Regions from separate parts of the Homo sapiens genome. Here all the other regions are linked to region 1. Evidence: fine-mapped expression QTL. A gene starts in region 1. Each other region holds a variant in brackets. All regions are shown on one strand. Distances are between the middles of the regions. Region 1 holds the start of NSMCE1 (NSE1 component of SMC5/6 complex). Region 2 overlaps KDM8 (lysine demethylase 8). Region 3 overlaps NSMCE1 (NSE1 component of SMC5/6 complex).

Region 1 (5,221 bases):
AAGACCAGCCTGGGCAACATAGCAAGATCCACTCTCAACAACAACAACAACAACAAAATAATGTGAATATGTTAAATAACAGCCAAAATAAATGTAAATGAGAATGAGAACAGGATAGGATTGAATGCTATAATTTGGTGGAAAAGGAGTGGGAAAAGTAGGAGTGGAAGAAAGACAACCATAAGCTTGTTTATGCATATTATGTCCCTTGTCTCTATGAGAAGAGACTGTAGGGAGAATGGTGGGATTAGCATAGACATGTATTACCTACTTAAATAATTTTATTTTATACAAAAATCAGCCAGGCGTGGTGGTGCACGCCTGTAATCCCAGCTACTCAGAAGGCTAAGGCAGGAGAATCGCTTGAACCCAGGAGGTGGAGGTTGCAGTGAGCCAAGATCGCGTCACTGCACTCTAGCCTGGGCGACAGGGCGAGACTCTGTCACAAAAAGAAAAAAAAAATTACTTTTTTTAAAAAAATTAATTAAAACAGTTTATTGGCTTTAAATGTACATCAGTAAATTTTTAAATGCTAAAAAGTTATGATAAAATAATACAGAACCAAAACATCAAAGAAAATAGAGGCTCAGCAGCATGATTTCAATATATTTTCCCGGATAAACAGATTTTTTTTCTAAGTATATGCCTTTTTATTCAAGAACAAAAACTCCCTAAATTCAATGTTTAGAACTGAATTTTTTTTAACTAAGCCCAGAAAACTGGGGCTCATAAAATAAGGCATAATGTGGGCAGCAAAAGAAAAAAGGAGAAAAAAAATGGGAGAAAAATTGGTTTTAATCCCATGTATAATATAGGTTGGCTGGTTTTGTTTTTGTTTTAGCCAATTTAAGGCAGAATTATCTCTCTGCAACCTTGCAGATAAATCCTAGTGTTTTAGCCATAAGTTTCAAGAGTTCATATATACAGATAAACCAATTAAAAAAACCTTTTCGAAGGCTTTTGAAGCATTATATAAATCTTTAAAATTCCTATCACCCACATTTTAAGAAATACATCTATACGTTTAAATTTATTATTAAATTAATTAAATGCATTAATTAAATCAATTTATTTAAATTTAATAATTTTAAAATAGAAATGTTTGTGGAATAAGTAAATCTCAGTCATACCATTCGTGCGGGTGCTAACACAATTCTAGTGCTTCACATGCCCGACCTCATTTAACCCAAACCAGAACAACCTTATGAGCAAAGGGTCACTGACCCCATCTTACAGATGAGGAAACTGAGACTAAGAGGGCACAAGGTGACACACAAGAGTTGGTGGCAGAGATAGACGTGACCATACAACAGCACAGTTCCTGTTTTCAAGGACACTCTCTATCCAGCGAGAGTGAGAAAAGTGAGTGAACAGAACAACTACAATCCAGGTCCCTCATCTGCAACCCTCAAATCTAAAAAGGTATGAATACTAGTGGATGATCGGATGCAGGGGAAAAAAAAAAAAAAGTCTGAATACCAAAACTTGTTTAAGTTGGAAAACTTGACCTGACTTAAGGTGAGGCTATTTATGGTTATTTATCCCAACAGTGTAAATATATGCATTTTTTTTTTTGAGACGGAGTTTCGCTCTTGTTGCCCAAGCTGGAGTGAAGTGGCACGATCTTGATTCACTGCAACCTCCGCCTCCCGGGTTCAAGCGATTCTCCTGCCTCAGCCTTCCGTCTCAGCCTCCCGAGTAGCTGGGATTACAGGCACGCACCACCACGCCCGGCTAATTTTTTGTATTTTTAGTAGAGACAGGGTTTCACCATATTAGCCAGGCTGGTTTCGAACTCCGAACCTCAGGTGATCCGCCCCCCTCAGCTTCCCAAAGTGCTGGAATTATAGCCGTGGGCCACCGCGACCAGGTCAATGTAATATATGCGTATCTTCATAACTTTAGCTGTGGAAAGGGTCGTGTATTTGATTACAAGCCGCTGCTCCAGCCCCCTCTGAGGGTGAAACCTAACATAGAACATAGGGACTTTACCTTTCCAAACTCCGAGAACTCCTCGATTTTAAACGCATCTGGCCTCGGGGCTGTAACATAAGCGGCTGCGGACTTGTACAAAGTAAGAAACTCCGTACACAAAACAGAGGGGAGCACGGAGGGCGGCGGGACAAAGAGGGTGGTCGGCAAAGGCTGTATTTTCCATAGATGTAATCACAGTTTGAATCGAATTTTATATTTTGCTTTTTCACCTGTTACAATGAAAAGTATCTTTACCTGTTAAATCGTAATTACGATTAAAAATATTTTTCACTAAATAGTAAGATTTTTAGATGTCTGCGTGTGTGTTGCGGGAGGACATCCCAGTCCGCTGTTTTCTGCGGCCCCTGTCTGGGCCTCAGTTTCCCCATCAAGAAGGGGGAAACCCCAAGACCCCAGTCCCCGAGTTCCACAGCCCACGGGGACCGACCCCGGGGCCGGACCCCACTGCCTGTCTCGCCCACCCCACCTTCCGTCCTCCCCTCGCCTTCCTTGAAGTCCCTCTTCTTTCCCCTCCAACCCCTAGCTCCCCACGTTACCCACCAGGGAGCCCAAGCGCATCCCAGGCCGCGCTAGCGGATACGGTCGCAAGGTGGACTCTTCTTCCTTTGAGGCGGGGCGAACGCGAACGCGGCGTTCCCATTGGTGGCCTGCGGCTTATTCGCCCGTCCGTTGAGTGACGCACTTCCGGTTCTCCGTTTGCGCCATTGCCCTGGTGGTTCCGCCTCGTGGGTTAGATCCCAAATTACGCCCGCTCTCGATCCTTAATAATGGGAAGGGGCTTCCACTTGTCGCCCTCCGCCTCCTGCACCTCAGTGACTTCCCTGACCAAGGAGGAAGAATTGGCGTGCAGCCTGGGCTTCCCTCAATGGCCACCATTCCGCTGGCACAATGTAGTGCCCTGCCCCGGGCCTCAGTTTCCCCATCTGTGGAACTGAGTGTGGCCTCGACGTCAAAAATGTGGACTCTGGTCCGGTCGCGGTGGCTCACGCCTGTAAGTAATCCCAGCACTTTGGGAGACCAAGGCGGGCCGATCACTTGAGGTCAGGAGTTCGAGACCAGCTTGGCCAACATGGTGAAACCCCCGTCCCTACTAAAAATACAAAAAGTAGCCGGGCGTGGTGGTGTGTGCCTGTAATCCCAGCTACCCGGGAGGCTGAGGCAGGAGAATCACTTGAACCCGAGAGGCAGAGGTTGCAGTGAGCCAGATCGTACCACAGCACTCGAGCCTGGGTGACAGAGCTCAAAAAAAAAGAAAAGAAAAATGTGGACTCTGTGGTCATAGAGCCTGATCTAGAATCCTGGCTCTGCCACTTACTAGTTGGCAGGCGCTTGGGCAAGTCACTGAGCCTCAGTTTCCTCTTCCATTAAATGAGGATATTAGTTCTTGCAAAATAGTGTTGGTGAGATTTACAAGAGATAATAACACCTATATCAGGTGCTTAGCATGGCCATTGAAAAGTGTCACATGGGAGTGCTGATTATATGTTAACTGTTATCTTACCTAGGGATTGTGAGAAAGCAAGTGAAATTACTCGTGGAAGTGAATGGACTGCTTTGAGTCTTCAAGGCGTTAATTTTCCAAACGTTTGAATTCTATCCCTGGTCTGAGAGCTAGGGATGCAGCCTAGCAAGGGAAACAGGTAACTAATATAGAACAGCAGTACCTGCAAATATCTGTCTCTGTGAGGATAGATCAAATCCAGGCTTGGTCACTCACCACCCCTGTGATCTTGGACAACCTCTTAACCTCTCTGGGCTTCAGTTTCATCTGCTAAGTGGGAAAGCAGTGGTGTGTGGTGATTAAAAGCTTCAGCTTTGGAGCTGGATGGTCAACATGGAATCCTGGGCCTTAAACTCAGTGTCTCTGAGACATAGGACAAAGTACAGTCAGCTGTCCATGTTTACAGGTTCCCCATCTACGGATTGAAGCAACTGTGGGTGGTTAATATTTGTGGGGGAAAACAGTAAAAAATAACAGTTCAACAATAAAAATAATACAGATTCCGAAAGCAATACAGCATAGCAATTACTTATATAGCATTTACATTGTATTAAGTATTGTAAGTAATTTAAAGATGATTTTCAATATACTGGAGGATTTGTGTAGGTTAAATGCAAGTATTCTCGCATTTTGTAAGCACCCAATGGTTCTCCTTGCCTGCTTCCTAGACAGAACCAATTTATCAAGACAGGGGAATTGCAATAGAGAAAGTTTAATTCACACAGAGCTGGCTGAACAGGAGACCACAGTTTTATTATTACTCAAATCAGTCTCCCTGGAAATTCAGGGTTTTCAAGGATAATTTGGTGGCTGGAGGTGCTGGGGATTAGAGAGTGTTGATAGGTTGGATCAGAGAGGAAAGGAGTCAAAGCTGTCCTCTTGCACTGAGTCAGATCCTGGGTTAGGACCATAGGACCAGATTAGCCAGATTACAGGGCTGGGTGGCGTCAGCTGGTGCATTAGAACACGGGTTCTGCAAAATATCTCAAGCACTGATTTTAGGTTTTAGAACAGTGATGTTACTCCCGGAAGCAATCTGGGGAGGGTCAGAATCTTGTAGCCTCCAGCTTGCGTGACCTCCTAAACCATAATTTCTAATCTTTTAGCTAATTTGTTAGTCTACAAAGGCAGACCCGTTCCTAGGCAAGGAGGGGATTTGTTTTGGGAAAGGGCTATTATTGCCTTTGTTTCAAAGTTAAACTATAAACTAAGTTCTTTCCAACATTAATTCCACCTATGTCCAGGAATGATCAAGGACAGCTTGGAAGTTAGAAGCAAGATGGAGTCAGGCCAGATCTCTTTCACTATCATAATTTTCTCAGTTATGCTTTTTACAAAGGTGGTTTTGATTTTACATAAGGGACTTGAGCATCGAGAATTTTGGTATCCATGGGGACTAAGGTACCAATCCCTCACAGATACTAAGGGATGACTGAGCTCAAGTTTTCAGCTTCAGTTTGCTCATCTATAAAGCAGGTTTAATAATAACACTTTGTTGATAATGTTATTCTGAAGATTAAAGGAAGAGTAAACGTAAACTACTTAGAAGAGTGTCTCTGGCACATTGTAAGCCCTCAATAAGTGTGAACTAACACCACTAATAAGTTCTTTATAAACTGCCTAATAGGTAGTCAAATAAGAGGGGAAATAAAGCCCTAAGGAGTAATATTTGTGTTTTGTTTGCCCTACATGGTTTTGTGAAATTTTCTATTCATTATCAATATT
Region 2 (5,221 bases), 57 kb before region 1:
GACCGTAGGCCTTGGGGCAAGTCACTTCATTTTTGTTTTTTTGTTTTAATTTGAGTCAGGATCTTGCTCTGTCACCCAGGCTGGTGGCATGATCTCGGCTTACTGCAACCTTTGCCCCCAGGCTTAAGTGATCCCACCACCTTTAATCTCCTGAGTAGCTGGGACCACAGGCATGTACCGCCGTGCCCAACTAATTTTTGTATTTTTTGTAGAGACGGCGTCTTGCCATGTTGGCCAGGCTGGTCTTGAATTCCTGAGCTCAAGTGATCCAATTGCCTCGGCCTCCCAAAGTGCTGGGATTACAGGCGTGAGCCACCATGCCGGCCTTCTCGAATACTTTTCAAAGCCTGGCACTCCTGAGTGACTGCCATGAGGCAGACTCTGCTTTTAGGCTCTGGGAAACGTAGGGGAATGAGCTACGTTCTTGCCCTGGTGGAGCTGGCAGTGCAGTGTTGGATAGACACACGTGTAAGCAGGTGTTTTCATACATCCTGACGAGTACTGTAAGAGAAGCTCAAGGGCTGCAGGAACACAGAACACTGTTGGAGAGTCTTGGCAGGCCTCACATAGGGATATTTAAGATGGGCTTTAAAGGTTGGGTAGGAGTTTGCCAGGCAGCGGAGGGGTATGGGAGGCACTGCAGATGAGGACAATACACGTTCCTTTCTGAACAGACGTTTATCCAGTGCTTGCTGAGTACCAGGTGTTGCGCCAGGCCCTGAAGATACAGTGGTGACCCCAGACAGATGAGGGCCCTCCCCTCCAGAGCTTCTGCCCAACAGAGAAGACTGCTGTTGAAAAATCCTCGCAGATGAGATGCAGGAAGCTGCGGGAATGCACAGGGGATCAGGTCTGTCCTGGTGTCTAACTCTTGTTTCTCTCCACCTCCCCAGGCACGGGACTGAACCAGCTGGTGGTGGCCCGATGGCTGGAGACACCCACTGCCCCGCAGAGCCCCTGGCCAGAGAAGGCACTTTATGGGAGGCCCTCAGGGCGCTCCTGCCGCACAGTAAAGAAGACCTGAAGTTGGACCTCGGGGAGAAAGTGGAGAGGAGCGTGGTGACATTGTTGCAGCGAGCCACTGAGCTCTTCTACGAGGGCAGGAGGGACGAGTGTCTGCAGAGCAGCGAGGTGATCCTGGACTACTCCTGGGAGAAGCTCAACACGGGCACATGGCAGGACGTAGACAAAGACTGGCGCCGGGTCTACGCCATCGGCTGCCTCCTGAAAGCCCTGTGTCTGTGCCAGGCACCTGAGGATGCCAACACTGTGGCCGCAGCCCTGCGGGTCTGTGACATGGGCCTGCTGATGGGGGCAGCCATCCTGGGGGACATCCTTCTTAAAGTCGCTGCCATCCTCCAGACACACCTCCCTGGAAAGAGGCCTGCCCGTGGCTCCCTCCCAGAGCAACCCTGCACAAAGGTATGTGGGGGAGATTCTCCCCAAGCACACTAGCCATCCAGCAACCCTGTTGTTCTAGAAATTCCGAGTCATCTCTCCCCTGGGGTGAGGCCTCGTGGCCTGCAACCCCTCTGGTGGAAAACAGCATTGCCATTGATTTTGGATTTCTGTTTGTTTTTGGAAGCAGGGTCCCGTTCTGTCGCCCAGGCTGGAGTGCAGTAGTGTGATCTCGGCTCCTTGCAGCCTCCACTTCCTGGACTCAAGCAATCCTTCTGCCTCAGCCTCCTTAGTAGCTGGAACTATGGGTGCATGGCACCACACCCAGCTAATTTTTTTAGTTTCTTATTTATTTTTTATTTTTTGTAGAGATAGGGTCTCATGTTTCTCAGGCTAATCTGGAACTCCTGGCCTAAAGCAGTCCTCCTGTCGTGGCCTCCCGAAGCACTGAGATTACAGGTGTGAGCCACCGTGCTCAGCCCCCATTGACTTTGGAAATGGAACAGCTCCATTCATTTTCTCTCTTTTTTTTTTTTTTTTTTGCAAAGGCAGCGCCCTTTCAGCAGAGAGGCAGCAGAGAAACTTCGTGGTTCCTGAGGGAAACAGCTTAAAGCGATTGTGTGGGTGAGAGCTGCAGCCAGCGGCAGCCCGTTTCTTTCAGCTTCTTGGTGGGCTTGCTGAAGTCTCACCCAGGCGAGGCGATACCTCCAGCTGCTCCTGTCTCTCTGCTCCTGGGTTTGGATGAGATACTACAACTAGCTGATGTCTGTTTTGGGGTCAATCTCTCCCACCCCTTGGGTCTATGTGCCTGTTCCAAAGAGCACCCCCAGGAACAGAGCATGGTTTACTCTGAAGGCTTCAGGTCCTGGTGCCAACACACAGGCCTCACTT[G/A]CAACACACCCAAGCAAGTCACTTAACCTCCTTTGAGCCTCGGTTTCCTTGTCTGTAGAGTGGCAGAGTACTGACCCACAGAAAGAAATGACTAAGACTGTACTAGACACTTGGTAGTGGAATTATGGGATGTTTCTGACATTTTTCTAAATGCTTTGCTATGTTTTCCGAATTTCCTACAATGCATATTATTATTATTATTATTTTTGAGACGGAGTCTCACTCTGTCACCCCGGCTGGAGTGCAGTGGCGCAATCTCAGCTCCCTGCAACCTCTGCCTCCCAGGTTCAAATGATTCTCCTGCCTCAGTCTCCCAAGTAGCTGGGATTATAGGCACCCACCACCACGCCCGGCAATTTTTGTATTTTTAATAGAGACAGGGTTTCACCATGTTGGCCAGGCTTGTCTGGACCTCAGGTGATCCACCCACCTCAGCCTCCTAAGTGCTGGGATTACAGGCGTGAGCCACAAATTATTTTTATATAAGAAAAATGCAAGTGGTTGACACTAAACACACAGGCATGTAACCAAAATAAAAGAAAATCAAATAAAGGGAGAAGAAAATTTTTCCACAAATATGTCAGACAATGAATATCTCTATTACGTAAGGAATGGTACAAATCAATAGGGAAAAAATCTTGAGCCCCAGGAGGTAGAAATCCAGGAACCTGAACAGACTGTTCACAAGAAGGAAATAGATCTGTTAAACAAATGTGCAGGAGAATGTTCAGCCTCACCTCTGGTTAAAAAAATAAAAGAGAGAGATGCAAATAGCAAAACAGCATTTCATCTTTGGCTGTTAAGTTAGCAAACAAGGCTTCATATGATACCCGGTGTTGCCAAGGGCACCATGTGGCCAAGGGCATGGGGTGTGGGTTGCTCTTTTGTTTCATTTTTTTTACAGACAGGGTCTTGCCCAGTCACCCACGCTGGAGTGCAGTGGCACAATCATAGCTCTCTGCAGGCCGGGCATGGTGGCTCACGCCTATAATCCCAGCACTTTGGGAGGCTGAGGCCGGCAGATCACCTGAGGTCAAGAGTTCGAGACCAGCCTGGCCCACATGGTGAAACCTCATATCTACTAAAAATACAAAAATTTGCTGGGCGTCCTGGCACATGCCTGTAATCCCAGCTACTCTGCAGGCTGAGGCAGGAGAATTGTTTGAACCCGTGAGGCAGAGGTTGTAGTGAGCCGAGATTGTGCCACCGCACTCCAGCCTGGGCAACAGAGCAAGACTCGGTCTCAATAAATAAATAAATAAATAAAACATAGCTCACTGCAGCCTCGACCTCCTAGGCTTAGGTGATTTCTCCTACCTCAGCTTCCCGAGTGGCTGGGACTACAGGCATGTACCACCACGCCGAGCTTTTTAAATTTTTTCTAGAGCCAGAGGTTTCTCTATGTTGCCCAGGCTCGTTTCAAACTCCTGGGCTCAAGCAGTCCTTCCACCTTGGTCTCCCAAAGTGCTGGGATTACAGGTATGAGCCAGTGTGGCTGGCCATTTCCCAGCAGGTTCACACCTGTGGACACTGAGGTTCTCAAGCAGCAAGTAACTTACTCAGGTCACCCAGCTGGGAGATGGTTAAGGAAATGATGGTGCAGCCACTCCTAAGAAACTGTAAGGACCGGGTGGCCATGTGGAAACTGCTTTTGATAAATGATTGGAGGGGAGAGGCAGGGCTGCTGCTTCATCATTGCTGTTACTCCCAGTGGGTCAGAGATATTTTGCGTGTGTGTGTGTGTGTGTGTGTGTGTGTGTGTGTGTGTGTGTGTAAGATGGGAAAAGAATAGGAATGAGAAGACCTTAAGATGGTGAAGTTGGAGATAGTAAGTTTTCCTTTATTGCAGAATGTCTGTGAAAGCAGTTTATAATGAAACAAACATTTTTGATGAAATGGTTAAGAAAAAAACCACCTTGATCTCATGAGGAGCAAATAGTAATAGTAGCAGTAATAATAACAAACGTTGTCTATTGTTGTTACTGGTACTCTTGACAGCTAAGCTCTCCTACCCCTGACACAGGTTCCTGGTGGAATACCTCAAATGTCGACTTCCTGAGGTGGTTGCTATTTTGTTCTGTTTTGATTTTAAACAGAAAGCAAGGGCGGACCATGGTTTGATTCCAGATGTGAAGTTAGAAAAAACAGTCCCCCGGCTGCACCGTCCGTCCCTCCAGCATTTCAGGGAGCAGTTTTTGGTTCCAGGGAGGCCCGTGATCCTGAAAGGCGTGGCTGACCACTGGCCGTGCATGCAGAAGTGGAGGTGGGTGGTCGCTGAGGGAGGTGAGGTCCCTTTTCCCATTTTAGCGTTCCCCAGGGCTCCCTGAATTCCTCCCGACCATCCCCAGGGAAATGCAACCTTGTAGATGCTTCACTAGCAGCCCTTGACTGATTGCCAAGGGGTTAAAAAAGAGTGAAAAGTAAGGTGCTCTGAATTTATGCCGCAGGTTATGGGATTCTTACCTTCTACCTTGCTCGCCTTAAGCGGTTTTTTAATGAGTCCCTAAGTGGCAGTCCTAGAATGTTTCTGTTATGCAATTTTACAGGATCCTAGCAATTTCAGACCATCTCAGGGCCCTGAAGCTAAGAGCAGAAATAACCCAAGAGACAGCCCCTCTCTCTCTGAGGGATTCTGTGGTCTCTTGTGTTTGTTTCTAGTCCTTTCTCAGAATCATGATGGGGAGATCAGATCAGGCAGCTGGAGCGTGGCTGTCATGCCGCGGCTCTGCATGAGTTTGGAAATAAGGAGGCATCTCTCCAGGAAGGTAGATGGAGTCCGCCTGTTTTGTGGTTTCGCGGAGGGAATGGTACCCGCTGACACATGTGGAGGAATTCTCATTGCAGGAGCTCTCCTCACAGCAAGGCTTCATTAAGCATTTTACTACGTACCTGGCACTAGGACAGGTGTTGTCATCACCCCCATTCTGTAAAT
Region 3 (5,221 bases), 44 kb before region 1:
AAGTGCTGGGGTTACAGGTGTGAGCCACATGCCAGCCTTGGCTTCTTTCTTCCCCGCTTCTAAGATAGGCCTGGGGAAAAGAGCCCTGAGGGTTGAGCTGCCATCCTGCCAGCATCCTGCCACTGGCTCAGCTGCTTGTCTTTTAGCCAAAAATCAAGCAGCCCCAGGAAAGATTCTGGTTGGCCAGGAGGTAGCTACCCTGGGGTAACTAGAAGGGGGATGGGAAAGTGGCTGTGGGCAGCTGAACTCCAGCTCCTGATGCCCTCTACCCAGGCCAAGGAATTTGACTTTATCGTGTAGGTCCTGGGGTTCTCAGCCTTTGAGCAGACACAGCAGAATCTGCATTCTCGAAAGCTGGCTGTTGGCAGGGAGAGGCCGTGATACTCATCCTGGGAGTGGGCTGCCGAGGGGCCATGGGCGTGCTGGGGAGTGACAAACACAAGAGCTATCTGGAAGCTGAGTCCACTTGGCTCCGTGGGCAGCTGTTTGCAAGGACATTGTTTATTCCCTGCCATGGTTAATAGTGAATTACCTAATCTTTCACAGGAAGAATTTACACCAGATGTCAACACCCCTGAAAGTAGCGAGGCATAAAACAGGGACGCCCTCATGACTAGGTTCGCCATTAGTGAGGAGGGGTGGCGGCCCGGCCACAGTGGGCTGTGACTCCTGGCCCGCCTGTGTAACTCAAACCCCTTCCCCAGCTGAAGGACAGGTGGACTGTGGCCCCAGCTCCCAGTGCCTAGCCGCTCCAGCTGGCAAGCCCCACGGCCCATCTGTAGTGTAGCGTGACAGAAAGCTGGGCACGGGAGGCCACGTTCATTAACGTGTGGTATCCTGGCCAGGTGGCTTCAAGCAGATGTCCCTTGTCAGATGAGGAATGGGAAAAGGGGAAATGTCCTGCCCTGTGGGTGAGGACACGCAGCATCTGGAACTCCTCATGAGGGTTTTGAGTGAGTGCTAGTGTGCGTTGTGGGACGTTCATGTCGGTGTTATCATGCAGGGGTTGGAGGCAAGAGAGACAAGCAGCAGGAGGGCTGGTGTCCCCAGTGGCCAAGTGCCCAGAGGCTTCCTGAGTCCCCAGCCAGGACTGACTCGAGCTCAAAGAATGAACAGCCAGAACCACAGGACAACTGGGACAGTCCGGAGCTGCCCCGGCCCCTCCTGCAGGCATTATTTGCTAGTTGGCTTTTTGCCTTCTGGCGTCCATCTTCCCGTCTTCCAGAACGGCAAGCTGACTGCATTCTGGAGAATGACCTCTGCCCCAGGGATGCGGTCCTGGAAGGTCTGTACATCAGCTCCTCCCTGGACCGGCATCTTGAGGGCGTGTCGGGAGGAGCTCAGACAGGCTGGAGCCGACCCCCTGTGGCAGCAGCGCCCGCAGTGACAGAATTGTCTTGACATCCATGACCCTTATTCCAAGGTCTCCCATTCTAGACTGGTCCTGCCTTCCTGTCATTTCTGCAAGCCACCTCATACGTTTCCAAAAAACCCCTCTTTAGGTGAGGCCGGCCGGGGCTGGCAGTGGCTGAACGTACTGGGCTTACCAATGGGCGTGTCTCTGCCCACTGACGAAGGGCTGGGCTGGGTCCCCGGCTGCCTCACTATGGGAAGGTGGGCTTGAGGGCTGAGGAGCCCAGACCTGGTTCTGGGAGGGTGAGCCTCCCACCAGCAGGGGTCATTGGTTCACTGAGCCTTGGATGCCTGCTCCACCCTGGGTTTATGGAGGTGAACAAAGTGGGGTGGTCCTGCCTGCAGCGGGGGAGGCCAGCCACCAATTCAGTGTCCAAGTTCACTCCCTGCTGCCCCTGAGGCTACTGAAGATGTGATCGCACCTTCGATATGCTTAGGGAAAGGCCCCTGCTCCCTCAGCCACGTGGCCTGAGAGGGACAGTCCCACCCCTCTCTCCGAGGTGGGTCTAATTTTCCAATGCCAGCTGGATAATCCCATCCCCACCTCACAGGTGTCCACGTGGGAGCTGTGGGCCATGAGGATGCTTGCAAGGATGTGGGAGCCACTAAGTGAGAGCCACCCTCTTCCTCCTGATCCCAGGCATGATGCGCGAGGCCCAGAGGCATGGCAGCTATTTTGCTACCATGAAGAAGGCAGCTGGATTTCTAGGAAACCACCTCGTAGGCCCCAAGCATGCAGCCAGCCCAGTGAAAGCACAGTAGACACAGAAATATGGCTGTGTGGTGACCTTGCTGGAGCCTCTAGACCAGGCATCTCCTCAAGACCCCTGTGGCCAAGTCCGTCCTTGTTTCAGCCAGTCTGAGTTGGCTTTTCTGTCATGACTGAAGCATCCTGACTGATGCTGGGGTTCAAGAGAGGGATGAAGATGGGGACTTAACAAGTGTGAGGATGGAGGAAGTGCAGGGAGCGAGGGGCTGACCAGTGCCAAAGGGCGAGCGGGTGCTAGCCAGGAAACAAAGCCAGACACCAGAGGGGAGGGCGCGCAGGCCCAGGGCGCTCTGTGTAGAGGCTCCGGAGCTGACGAAGGAAGCGCTGCACCCTGAGCAGTGGGTGGGGGGAGGCGGTGGCAGATGAGCAGGAGCCTCACCAGGGGTCACAGCCCTGCTGCAGCAGTGGGGGCATCCAGGGGTCTTCTGCAGGGAGCACAGAGGCAGAGTGTGGGCCGGGGCTGG[A/C]GCTCAGCCTGAGGCAGCAGTGGCAGGGCTAGAGGGCTATTGGCAGCTGGGCTGGACAGGATCTGGTGACAATGGGATGCAGGAGGGTCAGGGAGAGGAAGCACTGAGGCTGACTCCCAGTCCCGGCTGGGACAGCTGGATGGCAGGGCTGCCGGGCACCCACAGGGAGCAGAGCGTCCAGGGAGGGAGAGCACGCATCCCGCCCAAACGCCCAGCCTCAGCCCATTCAGGCCAGTGGCACCTTGGGCCAGGGGAGAGTCCAGACTGGGGAGCTGGGGAGGCCAAGGCTCACACATCCAGGTTCGGGCCAGCCCAGTCCTGCTGGGACAGCTGGCCACCGCTGGGACTGGAGGCAAGGCTGCCCTGGGCAAGGACAGTGAGCTGTTCTGAGTCATTGCTGGGGGCTCTTGCTGGCTTCACCTGCTGGAGCCCAAACCCAGGGGGTCTGAGTGACGACCGAACTCCAGGAAAGGCAAGGCCCCAACACGGAGCCTCACACACGGGCTCGAGAACACAGACGGGCTGCAGCAACTTCCCAGGATGGTTTATTCCAAAGCTGTGGACGGTGAACATTAAGACGAAAGAGGTGACTCGCGTGGAACCTGAAACACGGACGCCTTTCTTCCAAGAAGGGCTGTGGCGATCAGGCCACTCAAGGCAGCCAGCCCCTCAGCAGGGCACGATGGCTAATGCTGCCTGGACCGCAGGGACTTTTTGTTCGATTTCAAGACACCAGACTCCCTCTCCTTCTCAGGGTCGAAGACTTCTGTAGACAGAAAAGGCAGGAAAGACACAGTGAATGGAGGGGCTGGCAGCACAGGGGCACCAGCTGGAGCCAGCAGCTACGTCTCCTGTGCCAAGGACTGTCCTAGGTCTACACCATCCTTCACTGCTAACCCTCCCCAGCCCGTGAGGAAGGCAGAGTTAGCCCCAGTTCAGAGAGGAACAAACTGAGGGAGCTGTGGACATAGCTTTCACGTCCCCCTCCTGAGAGGGCTGCCAGAGAGAGAGCCTTGTCTAGACAAAATGCTCATACACGTTGGAATTTCAGCTGGGTTCTAGAAAGTCCTCTGGAGCGGTGCACGTAGCTCAGCCTTTACTTCCTGCAGTGGCTTCTTCTAGGATTCAAGCTGCTAACACGGACCCCCACACACCCTGGAGCCCTTCAGGGCCCTGTCTCCAAGGGCTTCCCTGGCACCAGGCCCCACGTCCTGCTGGCCCAGCCCCTCCCATGAGCTCCTCAGGGCCCACGCACTTGGGATCTCGTGGGGCCAGTAGTCGTTGCAGTGGGGGCAGCGCGGTTCAGCATTCGACTGGAAGTACTTGGCCACGCAGGGTAAGTGCATCCTGATCCCACAGGTTTCGCAGCTTTGACCCTGAAACAGGAAAGGCCAATGACGGCGGAGCTGGTGCACACCTCCATGTTCTGCAAACCTCCGGGGAAGCCACAAGGGAAATGGGCAGCAGGTGGCATCGTGTTATCTTCTGGGCCCCAGATTAATATTGAAAATAATCCCAAACGCCTTAGTGCAGTGGAGTCTTTTGTTTGCTTGCTGCTTGTTGCGGTGGGTTTTACTAAACAATTCTGAACACATGAACGCAGTGACAGAAGCCGAGGGCTCCCAAACTCCTGCACTCAGATCCTGCAGGTGGCGTGTGGACAGCCACAGCTTTTCAGAAGCTTATTTGCTAATGTGAATCAAAAGCTTTCAAAAAAAAAGTGCACTTTGTCCCAGAAACTCCGCCCAAGGAAATAATCACCAGGTGCCCAAGGATACAGGTGTACGAGGCCCGTAAGAGCAATTGCAATTACAAACAGCTACAGCTGCAAAACGATAGAAACTGAAAGACACATCAATGTCCACGCTGGTTCAGCGGTTGCAAAGCCCTGCAAACCAGTGTTAAGACCACTCCAGAAAGCAGCAATCGACAAGAGACACTCACTACAAAACTACCAAGATGATGCAGGTTGCACAGAACACTCAGCCTTCCTGAGAAAAATAAAGTAAGCGAGGGCCCTTGGACCCCAACAGCAGAACCAGGGAGGAGGGCGGCAGTGCGTCCCTGCGGGGCACAGCAGGGAGGCGTCCTGACACGTCCTGGGAGATGGCCTCCGCCAGCTCTTGTGGGAGGATGCGCCAGCAGTGCAGGAGGGCTGGGCCCAGAGCCAGGATTCCGGGAAGTACCTGTACAGAGCCCCGGGAGCCGAGGGCCCAGTGATGAGCTCCCGTGCCCTGCCCTGCGGGTACCTGGATGAGGAGGCTGTGACAGATATTGCAGATCTTCACCGCGTCGGGGTACGTCTCCCGGATGTATTGCTCCATCTCCAGGATGGCCCGGCCGTGCAGGGTGAACTCCCCTTCCTTCTGCAGGGACACACAGGAGGTGGCCACCCTCAGCCAGGCCCTCTCCCCATTCACCACCTCTCTTCCCTCTGTGATCCCACAGCCCAGTGCTCAGGAAGACACAAGGGTCTACGCAGCTTTTCACCAACCCCAGCCAACGGGCATCAGCCACATCCCCCTGGCAGAGCCTCGGCAAGGGAAACTGAGGCAAAGACCCTAAAGACATGGAG

The links.
Region 2: its variant is fine-mapped to the expression of NSMCE1 in whole blood (TOPMed, PIP 0.98).
Region 3: its variant is fine-mapped to the expression of NSMCE1 in T cells (TOPMed, PIP above 0.99). The same link has a PIP of 0.9 or more in whole blood.

The regions. Positions count from the first base shown.
Region 1 is chr16:27,266,171-27,271,391 of GRCh38, forward strand. NSMCE1 (NSE1 component of SMC5/6 complex) reads right to left here and starts at 2,602. Exons shown (of 8, transcript NM_145080.4): 1 at 2,536-2,602. It overlaps NSMCE1-DT (NSMCE1 divergent transcript), which reads left to right and starts at 2,035. Exons shown (of 5, transcript NR_037184.1): 1 at 2,035-2,074. RefSeq lists a silencer at 2,496-2,575.
Region 2 is chr16:27,209,200-27,214,420 of GRCh38, forward strand. It overlaps KDM8 (lysine demethylase 8), which reads left to right. Exons shown (of 8, transcript NM_024773.3): 2 at 894-1,422; 3 at 4,386-4,552. The coding sequence starts at 925. Among named protein-coding and RNA genes, the nearest start is that of KDM8, 8.3 kb to the left of the region's middle. The variant G/A (reference allele first, on the strand shown) is at 2,290.
Region 3 is chr16:27,221,825-27,227,045 of GRCh38, forward strand. It overlaps NSMCE1 (NSE1 component of SMC5/6 complex), which reads right to left. Exons shown (of 8, transcript NM_145080.4): 6 at 4,896-5,012; 7 at 3,902-4,022; 8 at 3,170-3,412. The coding sequence ends at 3,333. Among named protein-coding and RNA genes, the nearest start is that of KDM8, 21 kb to the left of the region's middle. RefSeq lists an enhancer at 571-1,256. The variant A/C (reference allele first, on the strand shown) is at 2,647.